Homo sapiens: one gene and its partners. The protein of the gene in region 3 purifies or fractionates together with the protein of the main gene of each other region. This does not show direct contact. Each region holds a gene or a part of one and is shown on either strand. Other genes may lie near its edges.

Region 1 (3,500 bases), on a different chromosome or scaffold from region 3:
CAAGGCTGTCAAATTCACTTTGATTTTGGCCTCAGCTGGGCTTCATGCTTTCAGAACAATTTCTCCCACCGCCTTTCACTTGAAGTCCTTGGCAGGGATGCCTCTCCCATTCTGCACGCACAGCTCACTTAATGGGCACAAAGAAATGGGAGAAAGCTCAGGGAAAAAAGAAATAACAACCCGACCCAGTCTAAATCTTGGGAAATCGAACAGGGTCTGCATCTCTTTGAAAACTATACACAGACATTTCTGGTCGAAGTGAAACCATGCTTCTCACAGAGGGTTGGAGACAGCAAATGGAGCCTTAGTCATACACAGTTAGTTTCAAACTTATGTTGCTGCTCACAGGGAGAAATCAATGTACGGTATATTAAAAACAATCACTGCAGCCCTTAAATGATCCAATAGTTTAGCTTTGAATGCATTCAAGCTAATGGGGGCTTTAATGGCTTCTGACAGATCATTCCATTGATCAAGGGGCATGTATGAAATACGCTGCCTACTAAACTCTGTTTTGATTTTGAGAAAAGAAAACTAAACGTCCATGGTAAACATGGCTTGATTGTTCACATGTTCACCGAGATCCCTCTCAGCGTGACCCTGGTTGGGAGCAGAGGAGGGAAGGATAATGGAATCCTATATACCTGGTTTGCTTCTCTCCTGACTCTAATCAAGGCATAATCAACGGGAAACCTCTGTCTGCAGAGTTGGGGGCAGGGGGAAGGAAGGTGACCAGCGGTCCAGTTTTCTGGGTTGGATGAGTTATAAGCCACGGCTTTGGCTGTCTGAGAAACTGATTCATCTCTTGCAAGCCTTGGGGGTTTGAAGGTTAACTGTTCTGGTTCCAACGTGGAAAGCCGAATTCCCTATTTGAAAGGATAATCAGGTTTTTCAGTTGGGGACAGCAGTTTTGCAAAGAAACAAATGAAATCATGCTCCTCCATCCGTGTGTCTGGAGGCTCCAAGATTATTTTATGAAGTGCTGAACGTACCTCTACTCAAGAAAGGCAGTTTCCACAGGGTGCATGGAGTCTGAAAAACCTAAAGAGGCCTTAACATGATTCATTGAGACTATTCTTGTGCAAGAGAGGTTTCTATTTCTCCAAGCCCTGGCAGCCTGCTGTGGCTTTAAGAGTGAGCCATAGACTGTTCCTGTGTCAGACTGGTCTTGCCTGATCAGAAGTAATGAATGTATGTAGAAATTCTTCCATTACCCAGCCAAACTAAATTGGTTTCACAAAACGAATAATAATAATTTCTCTCCCTTGGACTTGAGTAGGACTTTAGCATTTACAAAGCCTTTTTCCAAATGTTATCTCCACCTGCTAGCTGCACAGTCGTGGTTTTACCTGTGTGGATGGGGATGGATCTGGCTTGTGGACCCTCTCTCCTTCTCTCGGAGGCTGGGAAGGGAAGAAGGGTGCCCTTGAAACTGGCACCACGAAGACAGTGATCACCTGTGGTCTTTGTTTAATCTTTAACACCAAGCAAGGCTGTGTGGAGGGCAAGGCGTAGTGGCTCACGCTTGTAATCTCAGCGCTTTGGGAGGCCGATGCAGGCAGATCACTTGAGCCTCGGAGTTTGAAACCAGCCTGTGTAATGTGGTGAAATCCTGTCTCTACAAAAAAATTAGCCGGATGTGGTGGCAAGTGCCTATGATCCCGACTACTTAGGAGGCTGAGGCAGGAGAATCGCTTGAGCCCATGAAGTCGAGGCTGCAGTGAGCCGTGATCTCACCACTGCACTCCAGCCTACGTGACAGGGTGAGACCCTGTCTGAAAAAAAAAAAGAAAAAAAAAAAAGACTGTGTGAAAGAGCTTCATGCCATTATCACTAATGAAGAGGGTCAGAATTACCCGAAGCACACAGGATCTGGAACCATTGAACTTCTCCTAAACTTCCTGTAGAACGGTCTTGACCCTTTTGGCCCCACCTGTAGGGCACCTTGCTGTCCTAGGCCAGCACTTCCCATCTCTCAGCAGGAAACTACCGCATTTACCAGATCAGAAACAAAGGGAATCTCCGCCTGCTAGAAGTGCTTCATTTGTATTGGTGCCATGTTTAGTCAGTGGCTTTTGTAAAATTGATGAATTTTGTCTAAAGGCAAGTGCAGACAGGCAAACAGATCTGTATCTGCTGTTATCCATTTAGCTTGACACACATGTGCAGAGGAACTATTTTACCTCAATTCTTTCAGGATTGATGAAAAGTAAATGCGAGCAAAGTCATGAACTGCATCATTGGAAAAGAATCACTGAATCTAATGCTGGAGGTTAATTAATGCTTCCCTCCCCTTGAAATAGACTGACCCTGGTACTTAGACATTCAGAGTCAATAAACAATTGTTGTACACAGATCATCCATTAGAAGGTGATGGCAAGAATTTTTTTAAGCAAATCCAAAATTGCAATGGGTGACCTACTCCCACTGTAGAAATGAGAGTCCTAAAACATCATTTTTCATAATATCTCATTTATAAAAAGTTCCATGCCATCCGCCTAGCGAAAAATGGAAGCTGTGAAGAGCAAATGGGATAATATATGGGATAGTGACACAATATTCTTCTTGAACAAGCCACAGCTATCTTTAGTCCCTTTAATATTTTGGTCAGGATATCACGGATCATATTTTTCATCATAATAATGTACATGCGTGGCGTGATTTTTAAGTACCAGACATGATATGAATCACTTAACATGGCTGATCGTAGGGGACAGAACAATCCAATGAGCTAGGCATTATCATCATCCCCATTATAGAAACAAAGACTGGAGCGCAGAGGGGTTAAGTGATTTGGCCCAGTCACAAAGCTACAACTGTTACCACAGGAAACTTGGTTAATAATAATAGCTAGTACCTCACTGAAGCCCAGTATATGTCAGGTACTGTGGGAGGCATTTTAAATACGCATTAACTTATTGAACCTTCACAACAACCTTAGGTGATGGATTACTACTATTCTATTTTGTAGATAAGACAACAAAGGTTTGAAGAGGTGGTAGAGTGAGAATCACACACAGAATCAGAACTTAAACTCAGAAAACCTCTTCTGCCACTCAGGAATCCAAAGATTTGGAAAATCTGATGAATGACAGCGGGATAGAAAGAGCAGAGGATGCAGAGAGGCTCAGTTTCCAATGTAGGAGGAGGATTTGGGCCAGAGAGCAGGAAGAACTTGGCTGACAAGGTTCTGAGAGGTGGGAATTAGGACTGTCCTGGGAGCATGGGGCCGATGGGACACAGGACTATGGGAGCAGGGCTGCCTGGGAACCGGGGTGGAAAGCTGTCTGGTCCTTCTAGCCGGGATCTGGGGGGCACTTGTGGTTCTCCTTGTTAATAAGAGAGAATGGAGAACCAGATCTTCAGATACTTTCCTGGAGTTTCCAGGAATCTATCGGGTGTCTCAGGTGAGCGAGAGAACCAGGTGAATGCCTTCTGACAACCCCCAAAACCTGCCTCCCAAACACAGCAGTGGCCCAGGGGTGCCCTTGCTGTCTTGC
Region 2 (4,429 bases), on a different chromosome or scaffold from region 3:
TTTGAATCAGGATCCAAATAAAGCCCGTACATTCTGCTCTCTACTCTCAGGCGCTTGTGAGTATTTCCTCACAGTATTTCCCAAAGTGACAACTGCTGGAAGCATTCACAAAACTACAACAGTGAAGTTCAAGTTTTTTCCTCCATAAAAATTTTCATGCCTTAAAAAAGGCTGTAGTGTACTGCTAAATCTGCTTGAATTACACTTCCATTTATCTTTCCATTTATTCCATTTACCTCCTCGGTGCATGTAACTGCTGAATGTCAGTCTGCCTTGGAGGAGGTGCTTCCATCCAACCTCCCGGGATATTCACTCTGCTTTACATTTTTCTCTGGGACTATATGGTTAGCGGGATGTCGATAATGTAAGGCAATTTTACGTTTTATAGTTCAACTCTGTAACACAGGTTGCACAGCTCTTATGCGCATGTTTTGGAGAAAAAGCTTTCTGTAACTCTTCCCATGGTGGTTGGTAAGACAGCTGTTCAAGACTGGCTGACTTCCTCTGCCCTGAGGCTCCAGGAGCAAAACCCACTAGGCACTGCGGGCAGTCTGGGTCCATTTCCCTCAGAAAAGGAAACATGACACCTCATTCTGTTTGGGACTTTAAGAGGTTTTGCTGAATGCATGCCAGTGGTGTTTCTGACACACACACACATGCACACACACACGCACGCACGCGTAACTGTATCTACCTCCCACAAACACATTATATAGAATACAGATTTTTAAACACCAGAAACAGTATCCTTTCTCTGCCGTCATGAATACTTCTGAAAAGACCACTCAGGAAATTCCTAATGATTTTAAGAAATAATTGGAAGGCAAAATTTAACCATTTCTAGAGAAGAGACACTAAAAGTCTATTCGAATGAAACTTTGCAAACAGAGCACAAACCATGACTACCCACTCCGAGTTTATAAGTGCAGAAGGAAGATGGGGTTCCCTGGTCTGGCTGACTAGACTCATCCTGGGCTCACTGAGGTGACAGACACCAAAGTTTCGTGACCCTTCAAACTGATAAGGAACACTGTCTTGTGCCTATAAAAATATAGGCCTAGCAGAATGGAACTACATGTCTCCTATAAGAGGGGAAACGTTCTTAAAAAAGGGGAACTTACATTGATTCCATAGTGTTCAGTGACTCCTCGGCCATGCTCTCCTAGGACTCCAAATGAAAGGCTTTCCTCCAGGAAGATTCTTGCTTTGTATTTGTATTTTAACTTAACCTAAGTGTTATATAAACGTTAAAATACTAATGATTAGCACCATATAGAACATATTATGGAGAAAAAAATTAAGATTAAAAAGTATGTACAGCTGACTCTCAATACTTGTGAATTCTATATGTGCAAATTCATCTACTTATTAAAACTTATTTGCAACCTCCATATCAATACTTTTTTCCTGTCATCACGGATATGTGCATGTGCAGAGCAGTGAAGAATTTGAATTACCTGACACGTGTTTTCCCAGGTGAGGGTGAACAGGCGACTGTTTCAGCTCTGATCCTGTGAACAACTACCCTTTTCATGGCCTATTTACTGCCACTTTTTTGGACTTCTGTGCTTTTTGTTGGTGATTTTGCTATTTAGAGTCGCCCCCAAGTGTCATGCTAAAGTGCCGTCTATTACTCCTAGTGCTGTGATGTCCCTTATGGAGAAAATTTGTGTGTTAGAGAAGCTTTGTTCAGGCATGAGTGGTAGTGCAATGAATCAACAGACATTAAATAAGACACCTTTAAACAAAAATACACATAAAGCAAGTTTTGTGTCAACTGGTTGATGAAAATGTTGTAACCAGAGGCTCAGAGGAACCTAACCCTATTATTTGCCCTAGCAGCAATAGTTTAGTATTTCTTATTCCAGTGTTCATGGCAACTTTATAGAATATAAGTAGGGTGAATGATGAGAATCAATTGTCCTTTAGATGGTCTAAAATGATTCACTTAACAAAAGACAGCACAATACTGATTTTTTTTTTTTTTTTTTTGAGACAGAGTCTTGCTCTGCCACCCAGGCTAGAGTGCAGTGGTAGGATCATGGCTCACTGCAGCCTTGACCTCCTGGGCTCAAGTGATTCTCCTACCTCCGCCACCCAAAGTGTTGGGATTAAAGGTGTGAGCCACCATGCCCAGCTTCAGTGCTTATCTACACTTGAGCTGTTCCTACACTTCATCTTTAGTTTCGTATCTGTCCATTAGCACTGCTTCATTACTGTAGCCCTATAATATACGTCCTAGTATCTTCTGGTTCACTACCTCCCTCCCATTATTCTATCAACCATTGACACTCTTACAAAAACAAAAAGAAGAAAACAAATACATCTCTTCTATTGATACTTAAAATATATTTAGATTTCCTCAGAAATAGTGAAAACATTTAAAAACAACATATGGAACCCTTATTTTGAATCCTTATTCAATTAATAGACTCCTAGATTAAAATCTCAATGGCCGAATGCAATGGTGGTTCAACATGGAAAAATCAAATATGTATTACATACACATTAGAAGAATGTAGGGGGAAAAACCCCACATGATCATCCCAATAAATGCAGAAAAAAAATTTGACAAAATCCAACAACCTCTCATGATAAAACACTCAATAAATTAAAAATGGGAAGGAACTTCCTCAACCTGATAAAAGGTTATTATAAAAAACTCACAGCTACCATCATACTCAATGGTAGAAGACTGAAAGCTTTCCTTATAAGATCAGGAACAAGACAAAGATGCTCATTTTCGCCACCTGTAGTCAACACTGTAGTCGAGGTCCTAGCCAGGGCAATCAGGCAAGAAAGATAAAGGGCATCCAAATTGAAAAGAAACAAGTAAAATTATCTCTATTCACAGATGGTGTAATCTTATACATAGAATAAGATCCACAAAAGTATTATTTGAGCTAATAAATTCAGCAGAAGTTACATTATGCAAAAGCAATACACAAATATCTGTTGTATTTCTATAAATAGCAGTAAACAATCTAAAAAGGAAATTAAGGAAACAATTCCATTTATAGTAGAATAAAAAAATCAAATACTTAGTGATAAATTTAACCAAAGAGGTGCAGGACGTATATACTAAAAATCACAAAACATTGCTGAAGGAAATATCTAAATAGATGGAAAAATCCCAAGTTCATGGACTGGAAGACTTAATATCATTAAGATGGTAATACTTCCCAATGTGACTACATATTCAATGCAATCCCCACCAAAATCCCAACAATACTTTTTACAGAAATGGAAAAGCTAATCCTAAAATTCAAATGGAATTTCAAGAGACCCCAAATAGCTAAAATAATTTTGAAAAAGAACAAAGTTGAACTCACATGTCCTGATTTCAAAACTCACTACAAAGCTACAATAATTGACACAGTGTGGTACTGGCATAGGACAGATATATAGAAGAATGAAACAGAATAGAGTCTAGAAATAAACCCATACATCTATGGTCAATTAATTTCAACAAGGGTGCCAAGACCAGTCAATGGGGAAACATTAAACAAATGATGCAGGCAAAACTGGATAACCACTTGTGAAAGAATAAAATTGGACCTCTTCATCAACGCATACGCAAAAATGAACTCAAATGAACTACAGACCTAAATGTAAGACTGAAAACTATAAACTCTTAGGGGGAAACATAGCAATAAATCTTGATAATTTTGGATTAAACAAAGATTATTATTATTATTTTTTTTTTTTTGAGACAGAGTCTCGCTCTGTTGCCCAGGCTGGAGTGCACTGGCGTGATCTCGGCTCACTGCAACCTCCACATCCCAGGTTCAAGCAATTCTCCTGCCTCAGCCTCCCGAGTAGCTGGGATTACAGGCGTGTACCACCACACCCGGCTAATTTTTTTGTATTTTTAGTAGAGACGGGGTTTTACCATGTTGGCCAGGCTGGTCTCGAACTCCTGACCTCAAATGATTCACCTGCCTCGGCCTCCCAAAGTGCTGGGATTACAGGCGTGAGCCACCGTGCCCGGCCAGATTAAACAAAGATTTTAAAATAAAACACAAAAGCACAAGCAACAACAAAACACATAAACTGGACATCATCAAAATTTTTAAAAACTGTGTGTCAAAGGACAGTATCAAATAAATGAAACAAACCCCCACAAAATAGGAGAAAATATTTGCAAATCATGTATCTGATAAACATCTAGTATCCAGAATATACAAGGAATTCTTTTAAAAACAAAAAAACAACCCAATTTAAAAAATGGGCAAAGCACCTGAATAGATATGTCTCCAAAGGTATACGCATGGCCAAACAAACAAACAAACAAAAAAAAAAACAAGAAAAGAGGCTCAGCATCATTAGCCATTTGGGGGAAACAGGATCAAAACCACAGTGAGATACTACCTCATGCTCACTAGGGTGGCTAAAACAAACCAACAAAAAACCCTGGAAAATATAAGTG
Region 3 (4,429 bases):
GGTGGAGGTTGCAGTGAGCCAATTTCACACCACTGCACTCCAGCCTGGGCGTCAGAGCAAGACTCTACCTCAAAAAATAAAGAAATAAATAACACCCACAAATACTTAAGAAAACGGCAAATAGCCAAATAGTGTTTATCAGACTCCTAAGTAGACAGCTCAATTAGCAACCTTCAGCTCCATCTGTGGGCCAAGCGGCGTGCTCTTAACTCAAGAAGTGTCCGGCAGGTCTGATTCTGACTGGAGGGATGTTCTGCTCCATGAGGGCCCACAGGGAAAACTGTGGGTTCAACACTAATCTCTCAAGAGGATGTTAGATCCCAAAGCTGCAGCGGTGTTTTTTGTTTGTTTGTTTTTTGAGACGGAGTTTCGCTCTTGTTGCCCAGGCTGGAGTGCGATGGTGCGATCTTAGCTCACGGCAACCTCCGCTTCCCAGGCTCAAGCAATTCTCCGGCCTCAGCCTCCCGAGTAGGGGGGTTACAGGCACCCACCACCATGCCCGGCTAATTTTTGTATTTTTAGTAGAGACGGAGTTTCACCATGTTGGCCAGGCTGGTCTCCAACTCCTGACCTCAGGTGATCCGCCCGCCTCTGCCACCCAAAGTGTTGGGATTACAGACGTGAGCCACTGCGCCCAGCTGTGTGTTTTTATTCTCAGATTCTTTTCTTGAAATACTGGAGGAGGAGTCAGAGTCTGGGTTACTCTGGGCTCACTAGATCTGTGACCTCACTCAGCCCCACGTGCTCCTCATCCCTAGACGGGTTGGACAAGGGGACCTCTAAAATTCTCTTTCTAACTAGGTCTTCCATAATGTCCATGGAATTTATACGGGGGAGCGTGACATCTTAAGGACACTTTTTTGAAATAAAATATGGCATTTCTAATGTTTCTAGAAATAGGGGCAAAGATACAGCCCTGACCCCTTTGTTCACGAGGCTGGTGTCACAAGAGAGATGTCCTAGATGACACTGTGGGGCAAAAGGGCAGTATGAGCAGAAGCAAGTCCTGGGTCTCCACAAGCACACACGGCTCCTTCCGGGTCTGCCCGAGGGCCTGTAGATCCCTGGCCACCCCTGCTTCTAACCCCTGAGACCCTGCCTAGGTCCCCAAACACTGTCAATGTCTGATCTTCTTTTCTGACCCCATTAGAAAATAAAAATGACCGGCCAGGCGCAGTGGCTCACGCCTGTAATCCCAGCACTCTGGGGGGCTGAGGCGGGTGGGTCACCTGAGGTCAGGAGTTTGAGACCAGCTTGACCAACATGGTGAAACTCCGTCTCTACTAGAAATACATTAGCTGGGTATGGTGGTATACATCTGTGATCCCAGGATCAGGAGGCTGAGGCAGGAGAATCGCTTGAACCTGGGAGGCGGAGGTTGCGGTGAGCCAAGATCGCGCCACTGCATTCCAGCCTGGCTGACAGAGCAAGACTCCATCTCAAAAATTAAAAAAAAAAAAAAAAAAAAAAAGAAAGAAAAAAGAAAAATGACCACAGTGGTTATTATCTTAGTCTCATGGTAAGGATTTCAGTTGTAGGCCTGTATTTTAGCTCTGATGGGGGTCTATGAGTTTCAGGGAATTAAAAATTCACCTTCCCTTACCTGCCAAATTTATTCACCAAGGGGCCGACCAGGAGGGATCCGATAAACCCTCCAAATGGAAACATGGACACGGTTACAGACCACAGCAACGTCAAGGGGAAGTCTTCCATGAATTCACCGGTCCTACCATAGTAAGTCTCATTGTAAAATTGTTGCATGAGCTAGGAGACAAAGCAAAACAGAACACCAAAATAATTTGATCCGGTTTTGCAAGAAGAACATTAGCTGTTAGGACACCCAATGAAATAACCTGGGCACACAGAGACCAACCTTATTAACCGGGGGGTGATGGGAGGCAGGACAGAGCTTCAGGAGCAGTGAGAAGGGTGGGCACCCACCGGGAGGGCTGGGAAGCCTCTCAGCAGCAAACCACCCTGGGTGTTTCTCAGCCAGAAAGGGATGACTCCAATTTTCCAATCAGCTGGGAGACCCCTGGCCCCCCCGGATTCCCTCTAAACAGCAAGGCCACAGAAGATCTGAGCCCCCTCCTAGAGCCCGGCCCACTGTGTGTCCATCCAGACCTGGCCCATCCCAAGAGACCTGTGTCTGCGAGTTCCCTCGGGTCTGTGCTGTGTCCGGAGGGTGTTTCCCTCTCCCTTTGCTTCAGGACCCACTGCGTGAACAGCCCCACGCTGGCCAGTCCCACCCAGGCAATGGGCTGCTCCAAACGTCCTCCCCACATCTTGCTCACCACAGTGACCTACCAGTGCTGGGGAGTTGACAGCAGCCACGTTGTACCCATACTGGAAGGATGACCCAAAGGCAGCTATCAGGGTTGCCAGGGCAAGCACAAGCGTCAGCCTCTGCAGAGATCACAGCTTAGGTCAGGAAGCAGCCCCAGGGTTCCAGGGCCCTCCCGCTTTACTTCGGTTTCGTAGAAAGATGTAACAGAATCTGAAGATCCATAGTCTTGAGACTACTCCATTCCTTGAAACCTACCCTCAACCCACCTTGGGTTACAGGCTTTCTCAACCATGGCACTTTTGACACTTGGGGTCTGATAATTCTTTGTTATGGGGGCTGTCCTGAGCACAGCAGGATGTTTACAGCATCCTGTGAACATGGTGCCAGTAGCACCCCTCTCCCCAGCTGCGACAACCCAAATGTCTTCCAACATTGTTAAGTGTCCCCTGGTGGGGAAGTGCTCCATTTGAGAACCACTGGATCAGAGAGAAGCTGAAACCTACTTCTCTAACACTGCAGCTACTGCAGCTGTTTGAATTGCTCCTGTGACATTCCTGCCACGTGGGGCATTTGCCAACTGCAGCAAATGTGCTCTTGCACCATCTCAAACATAAACTCCCAGAAAATCAAAGAGAAAAAGAGAAAATTTTAGCTATTTTGGCCACTGAAAATTTCCTTTCAGACAATCTTTAATGACAAGAGGAAATTCATTAGTAATGAAGAGCAGGAGACAGACATGGAAAGAGCTGCGGGCTTAAAATCTACAGGCCTCAGTTTTGAATCTACCTGTTGCCACTTTTCAGCTTAATTTCTAGGATCTTCAGTTTCTTCATCTCTGAAATGAGGACAATCACACTCCCTACCAGAGTGTTTGCCAGGATTAATTACGACCATGTCTAGCTGCAGAGGTGAATCTGCTGTTGGAGAGAGCTTGGGACGCTGCTCTCTGACTTGCCATCAAAGGACCTTCTTCCATCTACTCTGATGGACAGCCGCCTTTCTTTCTTTTTTTTTTTTTTTTTTTTTTTTGACACAGAGTCTTGCTCTGTCACCCAGGCTGGAGTGCAGTGGCGCAATCTCGGCTCACTGCAAGCTCCGCCTCCTGGGTTCACGCCATTCTCCTGCCTTAGCCTCCCAAATAGCTGGGACTACAGGCACCCGCCACCACGCCTGGCTAATTTTTTGTATTTTTTAGTAGAGACGGGGTTTCACTGTGTTAGCCAGGATGGTCTCAATCTCCTGACCTCGTGATCTGCCTGCCTTGGCCTCCCAAAGTACTGGGATTACAGGCGTGAGCCACCACGCCTGGCCAGAGAGCCCCCTTTCACAGGTAACACAGGTTCATGCTTGGCCCTCCAGTGACAAGACAAGCACTATCCCACGGTATCTAAATCTACAGAGAATCTTTTTTTTTTTTTTTTTTCTGAGACATTTCTTGCCCTGGCTGGAGTGCTGTGGTGCTATTATAGCTCACTGTGACCTCAACCTCCTGGGCTCAAGTGATCCTCCCACCTCAGCCTCCCGAGTAGCTGAGACTACAGGTGCATGCCATCATGCCTGGCTAATTAAAAAATATATTTTTATAGAGACAGGGGTCTCATTATATTGTCCAAGCTGGTCTCAAACTCCTGGGCTCAAGCGATCCTCCTGCCTCAGCCTCCCAAAGTGCTGGGATTGTAGGCATGAGCCACTGTGCCCGGCCTAAAGAGGATGTCTTGAGAGAGGTAAGTGAGGAGCCAGAAAGGGAGAGAAACAATGATCATTCCTGCCTTGTCATGGGGCCCCAGATGGGGTGGAGTGAACCTCTGAAGAGCAGCACCTGCAAGGAGCCCTGGTGAAGAGCAAAAACATACTACACACACACACACACACACACACACACTACACACACACACTACACACATACAGTACACACACACCACACACACACAATACACACACTACACACACACACTACACACACAACACACACAATACACACACACTATACACACACACAACACACACACTACATACACACTACACACACTACACACTACATACACAATACACACACTACACACACACTACACACACGCCCCTCATGTAACAAACAATACACACACACCCCCCATGTACACACACTACACACACACTCCCCAC
Region 4 (4,429 bases), on a different chromosome or scaffold from region 3:
TGGATTCAAGAGATTCTCCTGCCTCAGCCTCCCGAGTAGCTGGGATTACAGGTGTGTGCCACCACATCTGGCTAATTTTTTTGTATTTTTAGTAGAAACGGGGTTTCACCATGTTGGCCATGGCTGGTCTGGAACTCCTGACCTCAGATGATCCGCCTGCCTCAGCTTCCCAAAGTGCTGGGATTTCAGGCATGAGCCACTGCGCCCAGCCAATAAAGCCTTTTAGTATCTACCATGGACTAGGGCGAGATATGGTCACTTCAAGGCACTAGGAGATTCTTCTCATTGCATTTACTGTTTATGTGGTTCATTCCACATAGACACAATCATTTTCTTTTTGTGGGACAGTTTCAGTAACCTTAGCACAGTGAAACTAGAAATAAAATAGGAATTATGATATTTACTTGAAGACACCTAAATACTGACCATCTGCTATGAAAACCATTATTAGAAAGGAACACGACATAAAGAAAGAACTTCTTGAGTCAGGAAAATAACTCCCACCTTGATCCCTGCACTCCGGCATTTGGTGACTGCATCTGGCACGGTGGACCGAGGGGGATCGATCATTGACAAGAGTCCCACAAAACAGAGGTTGGAGGTCGGAAAGTTCATAGCGTCTATGTCAAATGAGTAGGTTTCTGGAAACTCGTCTGCTGGCAGGTAGAGATGACAGAAACCTGTAATACAGATGAATTAGTGAGTCAGTGAAACTAGAATAGGAAACGAAAAAAAATAAGAGGAGAACATGCTCATACACCTTGGTCCTCTGCTGTTTTACCAATACATTAGAATAAGCCAGAATTGTTTAATTTCTTCAACTCCATAATGCATTTTTTTAGGAAAGACATATTTCATCCAAATATAATTCACTGTGAGCTCATTAGGCTCTGTGTTCTAGAAATATATCTTGCTATATTGCCAAGTTCTAGGGCAATACACAGTCTCGACTTCTGAAGTTTAGCGGGGCACAGAGTTAAAGGGATCAAGCATAGGGTACATCTCAGGGCAGAGACACATTTCAGCTGCCTGGAGGATTAGGAGAGACTTCCCCAAGGAGGTCACATGTGAGGTGAAGCTTGAGAGGGGCAAAGATGATTTCTAGGGAAAAAAGGGAGGGTGGAGGTGGGAAGGCCATTTTCAGCAGAGAAAACAGCATGTGAAGGAACAAGGGGGTTCAGCGGAGGGGCACAAAGTTCAGTGCTAGATCAAGATAAGCCCAAGAGAAAGGCCAGCAGGAATGGGGCCGAGCCATCCTTTTCTCAGAAGGCATCAGCCTCTCATAGGCTGAGGTGGAAGGGACTCTTGTGTCTGGTGGGACCTCCAAGATTGTGTGATCAGCTTTCACATCCAATTTATTTTCAGCCTGGCCCACTGCTTTGCAAATGTCAATGGAGCAGGCTTTGAGAAATCAAACGCAAGTGGGCATCGATCCCGTGTAGAATACCCGGTACTGTGGGTTATTGGATGCCTAAAGCATCACCATCTCATTTATATGCTTTATCTGATTTGCCAACTCCAATAGCCTTTAGAAACACACATTCCACAGACTGCATCTGTATTGGTGAGGACTTCCATGGTGTTTAATGAGCCGGATCGTCAACCATACACTTCTGTTTCCTTGAATTTGTCATTCTGTGGTCCTGATGGGGCACCATTCCGCCAGCCCTGGTGCTGACAACAGGACACACTGTCCCCTTTGACAACACCGCAGGCACCCCCATTGGGTCCTCCTCCTGTTGCATTTCTAAGGTTCCTTCCTTCCTGACACTTTGTCTGCATCACTGGCATCACTCTCTTCCTAGTCGTTAAATGGGAAGCTTAATCATTTTTAAACATTATCCTTCTCTGATAGGTTCTAAATCTTACCAAACTCTACCTCTATGAAGTCTCTTGCCCTGATCTCTCCTTCCCATTCCCATCACCCTGAAAAAATTCCCATCCCTTTTGCCTGAGCAAGGGCAGCTGCTTCCTATGGAGATGTGCATCTCTCCTCTCCCTGCTGCCGCCAAAGACATTTAAAGAAGTTAAAGAAATTTAACTCCTTCCATAAAGTCTTCCCCAGCCCTGCGACTGCCCAGCTCACTCTAGTGGCACAGCCCTCAGTGCTCTCTACTGACTGCAGGATGAAACCTGGCTCCTCACCCAGATGTTCAAGACCTCCATCTCATGACCTCCAGTCCAGCCCTTGAACCCTGTTTCTGTGACAGTGCCATCTCACCTGCTGGCAGCACCCAATGTGCCCCACGCCGTTCTGCCTCTGTGATTGGCCTGTGCTGTTCCCTGGGCCCTGGATACTTTCCCCTATCTCCCCTCAAATGCAGTCACTTAAGGCCCAGTTTGAAATTTAACTCCTTCCATAAAGTCTTCCCTGAGCTTGCCTCTCTGGAGGCCATCCCACCCTGCTTGGTGCTGTCACACAGCATCCTCTCCTTGTTCCCATCCTGCTTATCATGTTCTCCTTTACATGCTTCACGTGGATGCCATGGCCACTGGGCTAGGTCACAGGTCCTCAAGGCGCCTGCCTCATCTCTGTGCCCACCAGGTGATGGGCAGGGCCCTGCCGCCGCACTCACCCAGCACACGCTCGCCCAACCCGCCCAGCTCCATGTAGGCTGTGTGGAAGGTCTTGGCAGTGCTCTTGTCCAGTGGGTGCTCCTCGCCGTTGATCATGATGGTGCTGCATTTCTCTAGGATGCGCTCAGGGGCCCCCTTCATCACCATGAGGAAGCGCTTGCCGTGGGGGTCATCCATCTCGTGGATGGAGAGCTGGGAAGGAATGAACTGAGCGTGTTACTTACAGAAAGGTGAAACGCATTCCTTCTTCTCTACTGGTCCATTAAATGTAAAGGAGGAAGAGGCACAATGGCATCCTCAGCATGTTCCGCCCTTTTTCTTTCTGTGGCCAAGTAAGACGAAGAGCTCTAGACTTGGCCCCAGCCCAGAGTGGGGCACCCACTCTGGATAAGTGGAGCTCATCTTTCAAGCAAAACTGGCTGCTTTAGGCAGGCTAGTTGTGGCCGTCAGCGTGTGAAATCTTGTGCCTTGAACAAGATCTCCCAGGGTGCCCGTGAGAGTTAGGGGGCTGCGAGCCTCTGCATCTCACCTCCTCTACCTCCCTGTGGGGAGCAGCCGTCTTTCAGACCCAAACTATTCTGAGCTCAGGAGGGGAGGAGGCGACAGGAATTTCTGCACCTCCTCACCTCATTGTCCACCCAGTTTTCCTGCTTGGATGTCATAGAAAATGGCGGGGTGTGAGGAAGTGGACACTTCCACGTATAATGTTTCAGGAAGACAGCCGAGTCACAGGAGTCTCCATTTTAATAGGAATGCTCTTGACCCAGCAATTCTACTTCTAGATCCATCCTAATAAGATATGCAAAAAAAATCGATATACAAGAATAAAAGGACTAACTCTTATCTAGCCCTTCTGATAAGCCAGGTACTCTTCTAAGCACTCAAGAGGAATCTCAGGAAGCTGGAGTGTTTGGGAGAAAATAAGTTGCAAAGAAAAGTGCTACAATTTTGGGTAAAACAGTTCTTTACAAATCAGTATTTCTTAGACTTCTGGGTATCAAAGATGAGTACAAAAAGAAGTATAGGGCAAATAGGGTTACCAGCTGCTGCTGCTGCTTTTTTTAATGATCAAGTAAAGACATTGAGAAAACCAACCAACCAACAAAAACCAAACCAAACAGAAAACCTCCCAGCTCTATCACTTTCTAAAATATAGGCCTTTTCTTTTTCTTTCTCTCTTTCTCTCTTAAATTTTTTTTTTTTTTTTTTTGAGACGGGGTCCCACTCTGTGCCCCAGGCTGGAGTGCAGTGGCACGATCACAGCTCACTGCAGCCTCGACCTCCCAGGCTCAAGCAATCCTCCCACCTCAGCCTCCCAAGTAGCTGGGACTACAGGTATGTGCCACCATGCCCAGCTAATTTCGTTTTTTGTTTTTTTTGTAGAGATAAGGTCTTGGTATATTGCCCAGGCTGGTCTTGAACTCCTGGGCTCAAGCAATCTGCCTTCTTCGATCTCCCAAAGTGCTGTGATTACAGGTGTGAGCCACTGTACCTGGCCAAGATAAGGCTTTTTACATTTAAAACATAGGGATAATATGAAACACTTTTATGGTATGTACCACGTGCCAGGCACTGTTCTAAGTGCTGTCCACATCGACTTATTTATTCTCAAAACAACTTTAAGGCCATGGGTACTATTATTATTCCCTTTTACAAAGGAGGAAACTGAGGCACAGAGGTTCAATGCTTCACTCAGGGTCACTGAGCAATAGGTGGCTATCTGGTGGCTGAGCTGGGATTTGAGCCCAGGCTAGCAGGCTCCAGAGTCCCTGCCCTTAATCATGGTGGCTACAAAGGATAATCTTTTAAATTAAATACATTCATCTTTATATAAAACTTTATAAAACATTTT
Region 5 (4,429 bases), on a different chromosome or scaffold from region 3:
GAGGAGAAAGTCCACAGGCCTATAGAATTAAAATGTCACACTTAAGGTTTTCAAACATTAGCACAGGGTTATGATGAAACTAATCACATTCATAAATAAAGAGTTTAGGAAATCTAAGTCTATGTTCTATCAACAATAAAAAAAGTTAGACCCTCCCCCACCAAAATAAAAACCTGTAATGGTTTATGTGTGCAAATAAGTAGAATTTAAGACATGAGTAAAAGTAAAATTATACTTAGTAAGAGCTCTGTTTATCTGGCCCTTCTTGGATAGATTTCTAGTATAGTCAGACAAAGAAGAAATAGGTTTTGAGTTTGCAGAGGTCTGGGTTTTTTTTTTTTTTTTTGAGACGGAGTCTCGCTCTGTCGCCCAGGCTGGAGTGCAATGGCATGATCTTGGCTCCCTGAAACCTCTGCCTCCGAGGTTCAAGTGATTCTCCTGCCTCAACCTCCTGAGTAGCTGGGATTACAAGCGTGCGCCACCACGACCGGCTAAGTTTGTATTTTTATTTGTATTTTTAGTAGAGACAGGGTTTCACCATATTGGTCAGACTGGTCTCGAACTCCTGACCTCGTGATCCGCCTGCCTCGGCCTCCCAAAGTGCTGGGATTACAGGCGTGCACCACCGCACCCGGCCTTTTTTTTTAATTTAATTTTACTATTATTATTTTTTTGAGAAAGGGTCTCACTCTGTCATCCAGACTGGAGTGCAGTGGCATGATCATAGCTTAGGCAACCTCGAACTCGTGGGCTCAAGTGATCCTCCTGCCTCAGCTTCCTAAGTAGTAGTTAGGACTACAGGCATGGGCCACCATACTAATTTTTCATTTTTTTTTTTTTTGTAGGGGTAGGGTCTTGTTATGCTTCCCAGGCTGGTCTCAAATTCCTGGCCTCAAGCCATCCTCTTGCCTTGGCCTCCCAAAGCATTTTTTTTTTAAGAGACAGATTGGTGTTGCCCAGTCTGGAGTGCAATGGTGCAACCATAGCACACCACGGACTCGAACTGCTGAGCTTAAAAAATCCTTCCTCCTCAGCCTCCTGAGTAGCTGGGACTATAGCCATGCACCACTATGCCCATCTGACTGATTTTTTTAATTTTAATTTTTAGAGACAGGATCTCGCTATGTTGCCCAGGCTGGTCCTGAACTCCTGGACCCAAGTGATCCTCCCCGTCAACCTCCTATGCTTTTTTCTTTTATCAGTAAGAGATTTTATCAGGATATGTGTGTGTCTTTTTTCATCAATCTAGTCTGAGACTCTATGTGTCCTTTCAATCTTAAATTTCAGGTTTTAATTCAGTTCAGTAAGATCTGGTCCATCATTTCTCTCTTCATCTGTTCTTTTGTTTTCTTTTTGGTCCTGTTTTGAATTTTGAAAACTGTAAATTACTTTAGAGTCCTAAAAAGATTTCTTAATACTCTTATTGCGTCTCCTTGAGATTCTATTTTGTAAGTTGTCTCCTGTTTCATTAATTCTGTTCCATCTGTTCTGTTTGATCAGTTTAGTCTCTATCTTTCAAGTTACAGGGTTTCCTTAAATGGGATGCAACTTTTTTTTTGGCCTACTCATGAATGTAGGATCTCTCAGCACCCAAACAGGTTCATCTTTGTCTCTGGCAATGGGAAATCCTGCAGGCAATGAAAACAAGGCATTCTGTTCTAACAGGGCCTCTCTGCTGAGGTATGGCATAGGGGGCCTCTCTGTTCTAAGGCTTTTCCAGTTGTCAAGTAAGAGCTGTTCTCCCAATTACAAAGAATGAGTGCAAACCAGCAGACAAACGAAAAATTACTAATTTAGGAAATGAGCCATAACCTGCAATCTGGCATTTCTATTATTTTTAATCAATGAATAACTTACGTAACAACTACCCAGGACACACCAGTGTTTAGCAACACTATAGTTGATAATTTTTGGATTAGACATTGTTTCTCAAGTGGATGACTATAACCTCCTCAGTCCATTTTTGTACTTTCATCATTAACTTTTTTAAAAAGCAAAGGTGATTGTGTTATTGGACTGGTTAAAATCTACCTTTCTTTGTCTACAAATTGGAGTTCAGACTCGTTATCTTGGCATATAAAGCTCTTTATAATCTTGCCCTGACCTTCAGCTCTATGTTCTGCTACTTGATCTGATACAAAAATACGCTGCAGCCCACCAATTGAATTTGTATCTTCAGTTCCCCAGGTGTAATGAACATGTCTTACACATTTTACATCTCCAGAATACATCACAGTATCTACTGTCACATACCTGATAATAAAAATGTACTGAATATCTAAAATTGTTAAGTGCTTCTTACTAGAAATCACTCATAATGGCTGTTTTTCTAAATTAATGGGTTTTACTTCAATTACTGAAATATATGCTTTTCAATCACTTACCTTTCAAGAGACTCAGAAATCAAAATTTCAAGAGAGTAAAATTTTAAAAGAATAGAGTAACTGGTTTGGTTAAATGGTTATGAATTAAGCACCTGCACTGCTAATGGAGTTTCTTCATCTGGCATCATATAATGGCATAATAAAGGTTTGGATCCATCTTTATTAATCCAAGAAGAAGACTTATGCTGCTCAACGAGATTTCTGATTTCTTTTAGTTTTTGCTCCAAGTCCAAAAGGGACAAAGAATGTTTAAGAGAAACACTAGAAACAGAGAAAAGGGAATTGGGATAAATAGAAACTATACAACACATCCTATATACACTCTTTTCTTAACAGGCTACTATCTAAAATCCTGTTTCTTCTGCTTACACCTGTAACTGCTGACTGGAATAGAATGGATTACGAAATCAGCCACTAGTTAAGGGCCATTACTACAGAGCCAAGAAAAGTATTTCTCTGGATTCCATAAGAGAATTCCTACTGTAATTATAGATATTACTAGTATAAATGGGAGGTAAAAGCCTCAGAGGCAGATTTTAAAGTAGGTCTTTTATCTCATGACCCAAATATTTCTGATTTGTATGAAATCAATCAATTAACAATGAAACATTAAAACTTTCCCCTCTGTATAAAAAAAAAGATAAAGAAAATGGATCCCACAATGCAATATCCTAGGATGGTATCTGATTTTATTACAAAGAGTTTCACAAATCACCGTTTGTCAAGTCACTGGTTTCACTAGAACAATTCTAATTTTCTTTCACTCATTAGAATCAAGAAGTCAGAAAAGTCAAAGAAAAATGCCTTACCTTCCTAAAACCTTCTGCACAGCTTGTTTAATGACAGTGATCAATTCTGTCAGGCCTATTAAAGAAAAAACAAACCTAAAAGCCTTGCTTAGTTTAAAAATTCCTCAATAATAAAAATAAATGAATTAAAATTAGTATAAAAGTCACAAATAAGAATCTTACCATCTCCAAGTAGGTGCTGAATACTTGATAAATACTGCTGTTGGACATCTGGGGGAGCAAGAATTGTCTGTATAAAACAGAAATACAGTTCAATTATCCAAGTTTTAAACTGGTAAATAAGAAATGTTTTCAATAAAACTTTGGCTGAGATTTTTCAAGATCTGAAATGACGGGAAAAATAGTAATTTTTAACACACCAAAAATTCTAGTTTCAACATATAAAAATTATTCATAATACTAAAAGTTCACAATCACATGAAATATAAAAATATTTATTTCATAGAAATTGTTATCAGGATAAATAAGTTAAACTTTGAACCTCCTGAGGGAAAGAACAATGTCTATTTAAGTCTATTAAACTTACAGTGCCATTTTTGCCAACTGCTGCATTATCCAGGTAAATATATCCACCAATTATGTTTAACTGGACCCGCAAAAGAACAACCAGCATACAGGTACTGTATACAGCCACAGTACTTCTTGTGAAACCTTCACAGAGAAAAGAAAAGCATTTGGTACTGTGATTAATACAAATGTGTAAAATCATGAACCATCCTAAGGTTATTTTTTTGTAAGATGACTTTTAAAAACATATTTACAACTGTTTCTAGTATAAAAATATATCAATTCAAAATATTTCAGTCTCTCCTCACAATTGTTTAATAAAAATTAGGTATGATCCCTTAATTGAAACAATAACCAATGAAATATATTAGGTGAAAGAGGTATATACTATTAGCTTAGAAAGGAAAACAAGGAAAAGTCTGGGAAGCACAAAGAATTGTAGCTTCAGAACTCTTAGTTGTCAATGGAGCTATTTTCAAGTAAGAGAAGAAGGCTGAGTGTGGAAGAACTCTAGCCTTCAATGGCAGCCCGAGGAGGATGAGCCTGTTTAAGGACTACAGGAAAGTACAGAAAGACTGGGGAAGCCTGGTAAGACAGGCCTCCCAGTAGCTTAGGACAGGGTGTTCAAAACAGAGGAGAGAGTGAAGGTGTTGACTGCTGCCGAGAGTCCTAGCAGAAGGAAAATGTCCAGCAGATCTGGTAACACAGAAGTTGTTACTGACGCTTGAG
Region 6 (4,429 bases), on a different chromosome or scaffold from region 3:
GGCCAGGCTGGTCTCAAACTCCTGACCTCAAGTGATCTGCCCACCTTAGCCTCCCAAAGTGCTGGGATTACAGGTGTGAGCCACCGTGCCTGGCTAAGAGACAATATTCTTTATACTTTATGCCTAAATCAATGAACAAGTATTTATTATCCACCTCAAGCCCATCACCACCAAAACTGTAAAATGTAAAAATAGGAGACAATCTCTGGCTTCAAGCAGCTCACTGCCTAGGTGGAGAGTGTGGGATAGCGCAACTGCCAAAGAACTCAAGACAGCACAAACATTGGCCAATTTACACGACACGGACTCTGTGAGCCACAGAAATTTAGCCATGTGGTGTCTAGCAAGCTGTGGACCATGGGAGCAGTCAGTCATGTAGTAGCAAAACATTTCCACGTTCAGTCCCACGTCTGTCATATCAGTTGTGTGGCCCTGAGTAAGACTTGAGCCTATTCACTCATCTGTAAAATAATAGCATTCACATGGCCAGGCGCGGTGGCTCACAGCACTTTGGGAGGCCAAGGCGGTTGGGTCACGAGGTCAGGAGATTGAGACCATCCTGGCTAACAAGGTGAAACCCCGTCTCTACTAAAAATACAAAAAATTAGCCAGGCGTGATGGCACACACCTGTAGTCCCAGCTACTCGGGAGGCTGAGGCGGGAGAATTGCTTGAATCCGGGAGGCAGAGGTTGCAATGAGCCGAGATCGCGCCATTGCACTCCAGCCTGGACGACACAGTGAGAGTCTGTCTCAAAAAATGAATAAATTAATTAATTAATTAATAATAGCATTCGTATTTGTAAGAAATTAAAGCACTTCGATACATACTGTGTGCTCAATACTAGCAAAACACTTCACAGGTTTCTTTTTTTCCCATTTACTTCTCAGCAACACTTTAAGGTAGTTTCTGTTATTATCCCCACTTCTCAGATATGGAGACCGAGGCACAGAGAGGTTAAGTGGCCTAAACAAGGTCTTGCAAGTCATTCTTAAGGAAGGAATGTAATTGAATGTCCTAGAGAAGGCGGGACTGGAAGGAATGGGTAGGATCTGGGTGGATGGAAGGAAAGGATAATGGGATCAATATAAACAAAGTTGTGCTCCAGTATTTCCTAATGTGATCCTAGCACGTAGTGAAACAACCCCAGGCTCCTTGATTGCCTTTAAAAAAAAATTGCCCAGGGCTGGTGGCTCACACCTGTAATCCCAGCACTTTGGTAGGTTGAGGCAGGAGGATCACTTGAAGCCAGGAGTTTGAGACCAGCCTGGGCAACATAGTGAGACCCCTCTATCTCTAAAAACAACTTTTTTTTAAATTAGCTGGGTGTGGCAGTGTGTACCTGTAGTCCCAGAAACTCAGGAGTCTGAGGTAGGAGGATGGCTTGAGCCCAGGAGTTCAAGGTTACAGTGATTGTGCCAATGCACTCCAGCCTGGGGGGTGACAGAGTGAGGCCCTGTGTCTCTTAAAAAAGTACTCTTCAAGCAATGCCCAGCTTCATTTTTATGAATTTTCTCTGTGGACAGTAGTCATTTTCTCCAGCTCTAGGAAGGCTGAAGGCTGTAAGTCCAAGCCCCACTTTACAAGGGAGAAAATTAAACATAAAGATAGTGCTTTATCCTGCAATGTGTGACCTGGAGTTTCAACTGGCCACGTTTTTATTCCACTCTGCTGAGGGCTGAGCCTGTGCTAATCCCAGATGCCTACTTGGGACAGTTCTGGGAACCAACACATCAGAGCTGATGGGAAATTCTGCCCCCAGAGACCGCATCTCAAAAGACACTTGGGAGGTTTCTGGCCCTGTTCTGGATTAAGAGACTTTGCTTCACCACTGGCTTATTCGAGAAACTTGAACCCATTTAAACGTTAATTGTTGCCAAGTGGGCCGAGTGCAGTGGCTCATGCCTATAATCGCAGCACTTTGGGAGGCTGAGGTAGAAGGATCATCTGAAGCCAGGAGTTCAAGACCATCCTGGCCAACATAATTAGAAAAAAATTTTTTTTTTAATTATTATAGCTGGACATGGTGGCATGCCTATAAACTTAGCTACTTGAGAGGCCGACGAGGGAGGAGTTTGTGGCTGCAGTGAGCTGTGATCACACCACTGCACTCCAGTCTGGGCGACAGAGCAAGACCTTGTCTCCAAAAAACAAATAAAAATGTTGCCAAGTGAACAGTACAATTGCTTCACGAAGTCGTTCTATTTTAGAGCATGTTTCGGGTGTCACTGGGTGGTATCTGAATGCATGGTTTTCTTATTTAGGGGATAGTTTGGGTTAATATTGTTCTTCTGTGTTTTAACAAACATATTTTAGTGGTGAAGGAGGGACCACACAAAGGGAACTTAAAAATCCAGAGAGGTTCATTTCGACGTTTTCTGGTTTCATCTCTCACTCAGAAGTGTAAAGAGGACATCTGTGTGAATGACTGGAGTGTCTTCCCTGTCACGTTGGTTAGAATCCTGGCCCTCCTCACCTATGCTGTGTGACCCTGGATGAGTTAGTGCTCTGTGCCTCAGTTTCCTCCTTAATAAAATGGAAATATTAATGAGCTCTACCTCAAAAGGTTGTCAAGGAAGATTAAATGGAATAATCATGTAAAGTATTGAAATCTTTGCCTGGCACATAGTAAACAGTCAAAAAATAAATACTGTCCATTCTTTTTATTACATCCGGGAGTAGCCACAATCCTCAGGGCTTCTAGCAGTTGGGCCTTTTGACTTCATCATTTTTTCTTATTTGTTTTGTTCTTACAGGCACGGTTACACAAAGGGAATGGGCTGCCAGAGACAGGGAGGCTGTTGCCTGCAGGGATGTCAGGGTTTTGTTGTTTTAAACAACTGAGTGGTTTTTTAAACCCTGAATTCCCAGTTAGAAATGTTTCAAGATAACCCCTTTTTATGGTCATCATCCCCAATAAGTTAATTACTGGACCCAAGGAAGTACCAAAAATTGTGGGGCTGAATACTCTGGCTGCTGTGACTCAAATTCCTTGGAATTCACCCTTAATTTTCTTGGATTTTTCTTTTGGTTAAAAAAAATTGACAGCAGTTGTAAGACAATTCTAAGATCGGTCTATTTGTACACGTAATTCATTTTATAATCAAAGATTCATGGATTTTCCTAAAAGGTTGGTCTTTTGTCTTGTTCCATCACCTTTTCTGTGTTATGCCTAAAATAGAGGAAACCTTGGACCCAAGTAGTTGAAAAGAACACATGATTTCTAGTACATGCCTGTTATTGCTGAAAGCCAGCACTTTCTAGAATGTAAGATCTGAAGAAGTTTTATCCTTTTCGTTGGTAGCCTAGTATAATAGAAGTTACTATAGTAACAGAGAACCTGTTCTTTGGCCCATAGAGTTATTCAGCAGAAGAAAAGCAAATCAATCTTGGAGCCATTATTCTTGTTTAAAACCTGAAAAGGTGACTATATTTTAATTGAGCAAACACAGATGGGCAAATGAGTTAGAACAGAGAGGGGCACATTGTACTACCTCTAGTTAGATCCTTTTCACCCAGCAGGCCTGAAGGTTTCTCTCTCAAGCCTCACATTCTGTTTTTTTTTTTTGTTTTTTGAGACCGTCTTACTGTGTTGCCTGGGCTGGAGTGTAGTGGCGTGATCTCGGCTCACTGCAACCTCCGCCTCCTGGGTTCAAGTGATTCTCCTGCCTCAACCTCCTGAGTAGCTGGTATTACAGGTGCATGCCACCATGCCCAGCTAATTTTTGTATTTTTTTTTTAGTAAAGAGGGGGTTTCACCATATTGGCCAGGCTGGTCTTGAACTCCTGATCTCAAGTGATCCACCCGCCTCGGCCTCCCAGAATGCTGGGATTACAGGCATGCGCCACTGTACCCATCAAGCCTCACATTCTCTTACTGGCACCTAGCTGTCTCTTTCATATTCAGCCAGTGTGTGGCACGTGCTGCATGCCTGGCGCTGGCTCTGTGCTGGAGAGGACAGCAAATGCAAGATGGGCTAGTTCCTGTCCTCAGGCAGCGTATGTCTTGTGGTTGGGGAGGAGAGCTGAAGGGAGACTTGATCTCATCTCATGGATCAGGAAAGGCTTCCCCAGGGATGTGGCAATCAAGGCGAGACCTAAAAAATGAGTGGGAGATCCACGGGTGAAGAAGGGATGGAGTGGGGGAGGCACATGTCTCAGGCAGAGTGTACTGAATATGCAGAAGCCCTGAGGTGAGTCTGTGCTCCTTTTCAGAACTTAGAATAAAGCTGTGTGTGGTGGCTCGCACTTGTAATTCCAGTCATTCAGGAGGAATGGAGGCAGGAGACCAGAGGTTGAGGTTGAAGTGAGCTCTGACTGTGCCATTGCACCCTAGCCTGGGCAACAGAGTGAGACCCTGTCTCTTAAAAGAAAAAAAGAACTTAGAAAAGGCCAGAGTACTGTGACAGGGCAAGCGGCTGGCATGAAGT
Region 7 (4,429 bases), on a different chromosome or scaffold from region 3:
TAGAAATACAAAAAATTAGCCAGGTGTGCTGGCGGGCGCCTGTAGTCCCAGCTACTAGGGAGGCTGAGGCAGGAGAATGGCGTGAACCCGGGAGGCGGAGCTTGCAGTAAGCCGAGATTGTGCCACTGCACTCCAGCCTGGGCGACAGACCAAGACTCCGTCTCAAAAAAAAAAAAAAAAAAAAAAAAGTTGTTTATCATATCTTCCAAAACTGGTAACTACAATAGAAATAAAAGGTGTCTTTAGAGCCTAAGATTTGGGAATTAATGAACTAGTCACTTTAAAAATTTTTTCATCTTAGGCAGTGGCTCACACCTGTAATCCCAGCACTTTGGGAGGCCGGGGTGGGCAGATCACGAAGTCAGGAGTTCGAGACCAGCCTGGCCAAGATGGTAAAACCCCATCCATCTCTACTAAAAATACAAAAACTAGTCGTGTGCAATGGCGGGCACCTGTAATCCCAGCTACTCAGGAAGCTGAGGCAGGAGAATCGCTTGAACCCAGGAGGTAGAGGTTGCAGTGAGCCAAGAATGCACCACTGCACTCCAGCCTAGGTGACAGAGCAAGACTCTGTTTCAGGGGAAAAAAAAAAATTTCATCTTTTGAAAACACACGAATCAACACTTTTCCTCAGTTAAACCAGTTCACCAAAGTGTGAATTTAAAAAATTATACATTTGGCTGGCAGCGGTGGCTCATGCCTGTAATTCTGGCACTTTGGGAGGCAGAGGCGGGCGGATCACGATAGGAGTTTGAGACCAGCCTGTCCAACATGGTGAAATCTCGTCTCTACTAAAGATACAAAAAATTACCTGGGCGTGGTGGTGTGCCTGTAACCCCAGCTACTCAGGAGGCTGAGGCAGGAGAATCGTTTGAACCCGGGAGGCGGAGGTTGCAGTGAACCGAGATGGCGCCATTGCACTCCAGCCTGGGCGACAGGGTGAGAGTCCGTCTCAGAAAAAAAAAAAAAAAAAATATATATATATATATATATGTATACACACACACACACACACTCTCTCTCTCTCTCTCTCTCACTTTTATGTGATTTGGAAAAAAAAAAAAAAACCCACACAAACACACACCTCAAATCCCAGAATTTAGAGACATTACAGTTGAGGACAAATCTAAGTTAAAAAAAAAAAAAAAAAAAAAGGCGGGGGTGCAGGGATGGGATGGGTGGGTAAAGAGGTCTAGAGTGACAGAAAGCAGGGCAGGGATCCACTGCAAAGGGACATAGGGACATTTTCAGGGAGACAGAAATGCTCTGTACCTTTTTTGGGGTGGGTGGGTAGGGGACTTATTTTCTGAGACAGGGTCTCACTCTGTCACCCAGGCCAAGTGCAGCGGCACTATCGTGGCTCCCTGCAGCCTCACCCTCCTGGGCTCAAGCGATCCTCTCACCTCAGCCTCCCAAGTAGCTGGGACTACAGGTGCATGCCACCAAGCCTGGCTAAGTTTTTATTTTTTATAGAGATAGGAGTCTCACTGTGTTGCCCTGGCTGCCCTCAAACTCCTGGGCTCAAGAGATCCTCCTTCCTTGGCCTCCCAAAGTGTTGAAATTACAGGTGTGAGCCACTGCACCAGGTCAATGCTTTGTATCTTGATCATGCTGGTGGTAATATCACTATATACAACTTCCAAAACACAAACTATATAATTAAAATGGGTCTATTTGTTGTAAGTAAACGGTTCCTCAATTTTTCATAAAGGGGGAGTAAATTGATGTAAAGTAGATTTAAAAGAAAATACTAAGCAAATAATAGTATAGGTGGTACAGTGATGTGGCCAAATTCACAGATGGTACATGAATAACTGACATGAATAACTGCTGTTTAAGACATACAGAGCTAAGCCTTCAAAGAGAAGGCTTTTTTTTTTTTTTTTTTTTTTTTTTTGAGACGGAGTCTTGCTCTGTCGCCTAGGCTGGAGTACAGTGGCATGATCTCGGCTCACTGCAACCTCCGCCTCCCGGGTTCAAGCGATTCTCCTGCCTCAGCCTCCCAATTAGCTGGGACCACAGGCACATGCCACGACACCCGGCTAGTTTTTTTGTATTTTTAGTAGAGACGGGGTTTCACCATGTTAGCCATGATGGCCTCGATCTCCTGACCTCATGATCTGCCCGCCTCGGCCTCCCAAAGTGATGAGATTACAGGCATGAGCCACCATACCCGGCCAAGAGAAGGCTTTTAAGAGAAGCAGCCTCTATAACAAAGAAAGTCTAAAATTTATTTTTAAAAGTATATTAATTGTAACATTCATCAATGCTAGAAGTATATAATACTTTCGTTTCAACAAAGTTTTTTTTTCAGGAGAGGAATGTTCTTATTTGGGGGACTTTTAGGACTTATTTCAGAGGCCTCTTAGGGCTAACTAAAGAGAAACCAGCTGCTCATATTAGAAGACCTTGGAGTTATGAGATGCTAGTTTATACCATATGCATTAGACATAAAAAAAATCACTACCTACCTTCGGCTGAGATAAAAAGCAAGAGGTAAAGCTCCAGACAGCTGTTCCTAACTTAACTACTCTTGCCTCCCACAGCTTTCTGAACAAGGTAAATCCTGAATAGTGATCATCATTCAACCTTCATCTCTGCAAAAAGCATTTCTTTTCCTCCCAGGCGAAAACAAACAGTGCCTGCTGTCTAGCACTAGTTAAACAAGTTCCCCAAACACCACACACGTCTATTATAATACATACCACTGAGAAGCCACAGCAAGAACATAATGTTCCTTATGGGCCAAGGATGAGAGAAGAGGACAGGAATCCTCCAAGCTGATACAGTGACTTGTAAACCTGGTTTATCTTATTGGAGTCTCAGTTTCTACATTTGTAAGTATTTTTGCCTGATTCAACAGTACAGTATTTAAGAACCAGAACTTTTGTCTCCTCCCATCTTCTTTTTTTTTTGAGATGGAGTCTCACTCTGTTGCAGTGGCACAATCTCCTGAGTAGCTGGGACTACAGGCGTGAGCCACCACACCTGGCTAATTTTTGTATTTTTAGTAGAGATGGGGTTTCACCACGTGGGCCAGGCTGGTCTCGAACTCCTGACCTCAGGTGATCCACCCACCTCGGCCTCCCAAAGTGCTGGGAGTACAGGCATGAGCCACCATGCTCAGCCGTCTCCTCTCATCTTCTAAGAACTGGATATTGTCATTTGAAAGTCTTATTTTTAACCATCATGGTCTCTACGCTTGAGTGTGTCTGTGAGAATATGAAGACATACTGTAATTACTGGCTCATTAAGATTAAGCATCATAATCTTCCTAGTTGAAAAGGGTTAGCCAAGTACTGTATAAGGTGTAACTATAAGTATTTAACCTTACAAATTCCTCAAGAAGATAGGCAGAAAATAGGAAAGAAAAGGGCAAAAATAGGCCGGGTGCAGTGGCCCACCTGAGGTACAGAGTTCAAGACCAGCCTGGCCAACATGATGAAACCCTGTCTCTACTAAAAATACAAAAAATTAGCTGGGCGCGGTGGTGGGCGCCTGTAATCCCAGCTACTCAGGAGGCTAAGACAGGAGAATTGCTTGAACCCAGAGGCAGAGGTTACAGTGAACCAAGATCGCACCACTGCAGTCCAGCCTGGGCAACAAGAGCAAAACTCCATCTCAAAAAAAAAAAAGAAACAAAAGAAAAGGACAAAAATACCCAACAGTGGAAAGGAGGCAGCAAAGTTAACTGCACAGATCACATCTCAGTCAGAGAGCAGTATGTGAAGGAGGGAAAAAGCCTCTAATCACTTGACTCAGATATACGTTGGAGATGCTAGAGATCCAACTCCGTGTTCCAAAAACCTGTGTTCCCAGAGACCACTACTGCAGTGTCAGTTCACACAGATCTTATAACACGAGTAAACACTTCCAGATAATGACACTGATGGAAAAATAGCATACAATAGGGAAGCTCTATTTCTAAAAACTTTACTGTTTACCTGGAATCACACCTTTATTCTGGAACAAAAAGAAAACTGCTAAACAGAAGCAGATACTGTTATAACTCTTCCTTAAGATAAGCTTTATAGGCAGTGTTTAACTAGTTTAACTAGTGCTAGACAGCAGGCACTGTTTGTTTTTGCCTGGGAGGAAAAGAAATGCTTTTAGCAGAGATGAAGGTTGAATGATTATCACCATTCAGGATTTACCTTGTTCAGGGATTGTTAGGGAGCGATCAAATCGGAAAGGTAAAGATGAAATGCTTTTCCTGTTTCTTGATTTTTATCTACCAGCAATAATATGAGGCACACTCGTAAAGTAAAGGTTTGCATTATATTTACAATTAAACTCTAGAAAAGCATAATTCTGAGCTAAATATTCTGCCTAAAGAATCTCTTTCACATAATCCTTCCTGGTCACTTGCTCCTTGCACTCACAATTTGTTTCTTAATTCCTATGCTTTTTATCCCTTTCTATACAAGGA

Evidence for each region.
Region 1: the proteins of SLC2A5 (region 3) and FTO purify together in Homo sapiens (affinity purification with mass spectrometry; one large-scale study listed by BioGRID and IntAct). This does not show direct contact.
Region 2: the proteins of SLC2A5 (region 3) and SPTLC1 purify together in Homo sapiens (affinity purification with mass spectrometry; one large-scale study listed by BioGRID and IntAct). This does not show direct contact.
Region 4: the proteins of SLC2A5 (region 3) and ATP12A purify together in Homo sapiens (affinity purification with mass spectrometry; 2 studies listed by BioGRID and IntAct, with this or other methods). This does not show direct contact.
Region 5: the proteins of SLC2A5 (region 3) and PEX3 purify together in Homo sapiens (affinity purification with mass spectrometry; one large-scale study listed by BioGRID and IntAct). This does not show direct contact.
Region 6: the proteins of SLC2A5 (region 3) and TMCC3 purify together in Homo sapiens (affinity purification with mass spectrometry; one large-scale study listed by BioGRID and IntAct). This does not show direct contact.
Region 7: the proteins of SLC2A5 (region 3) and PDXDC1 purify together in Homo sapiens (affinity purification with mass spectrometry; one large-scale study listed by BioGRID and IntAct). This does not show direct contact.

The regions. Positions count from the first base shown.
Region 1 is NC_000016.10:54,116,656-54,120,155, reverse strand, and holds part of FTO (alpha-ketoglutarate-dependent dioxygenase FTO), read right to left. Parts: 3' UTR 1-3,500.
Region 2 is NC_000009.12:92,048,839-92,053,267, forward strand, and holds part of SPTLC1 (serine palmitoyltransferase 1), read right to left. Parts: intron 1,230-4,429; coding exon 1,122-1,229; intron 1-1,121. UniProt on the Homo sapiens protein: Component of the serine palmitoyltransferase multisubunit enzyme (SPT) that catalyzes the initial and rate-limiting step in sphingolipid biosynthesis by condensing L-serine and activated acyl-CoA (most commonly palmitoyl-CoA) to form long-chain bases.
Region 3 is NC_000001.11:9,055,845-9,060,273, forward strand, and holds part of SLC2A5 (solute carrier family 2, facilitated glucose transporter member 5), read right to left. Parts: intron 2,407-4,429; coding exon 2,308-2,406; intron 1,765-2,307; coding exon 1,604-1,764; intron 1-1,603. UniProt on the Homo sapiens protein: Functions as a fructose transporter that has only low activity with other monosaccharides. Can mediate the uptake of 2-deoxyglucose, but with low efficiency. Essential for fructose uptake in the small intestine.
Region 4 is NC_000013.11:24,696,998-24,701,426, reverse strand, and holds part of ATP12A (potassium-transporting ATPase alpha chain 2), read right to left. Parts: intron 2,770-4,429; coding exon 2,577-2,769; intron 681-2,576; coding exon 505-680; intron 1-504. UniProt on the Homo sapiens protein: The catalytic subunit of a H(+)/K(+) ATPase and/or Na(+)/K(+) ATPase pump which transports K(+) ions in exchange for Na(+) and/or H(+) ions across the apical membrane of epithelial cells.
Region 5 is NC_000006.12:143,470,376-143,474,804, reverse strand, and holds part of PEX3 (peroxisomal biogenesis factor 3), read right to left. Parts: intron 3,845-4,429; coding exon 3,720-3,844; intron 3,423-3,719; coding exon 3,356-3,422; intron 3,249-3,355; coding exon 3,194-3,248; intron 2,646-3,193; coding exon 2,477-2,645; intron 20-2,476; coding exon 1-19. UniProt on the Homo sapiens protein: Involved in peroxisome biosynthesis and integrity. Assembles membrane vesicles before the matrix proteins are translocated. As a docking factor for PEX19, is necessary for the import of peroxisomal membrane proteins in the peroxisomes.
Region 6 is NC_000012.12:94,573,531-94,577,959, reverse strand, and holds part of TMCC3 (transmembrane and coiled-coil domain protein 3), read left to right. Parts: intron 1-4,429.
Region 7 is NC_000016.10:14,981,041-14,985,469, reverse strand, and holds part of PDXDC1 (pyridoxal-dependent decarboxylase domain-containing protein 1), read right to left. Parts: intron 952-4,429; exon of another isoform or gene 812-951; intron 1-811.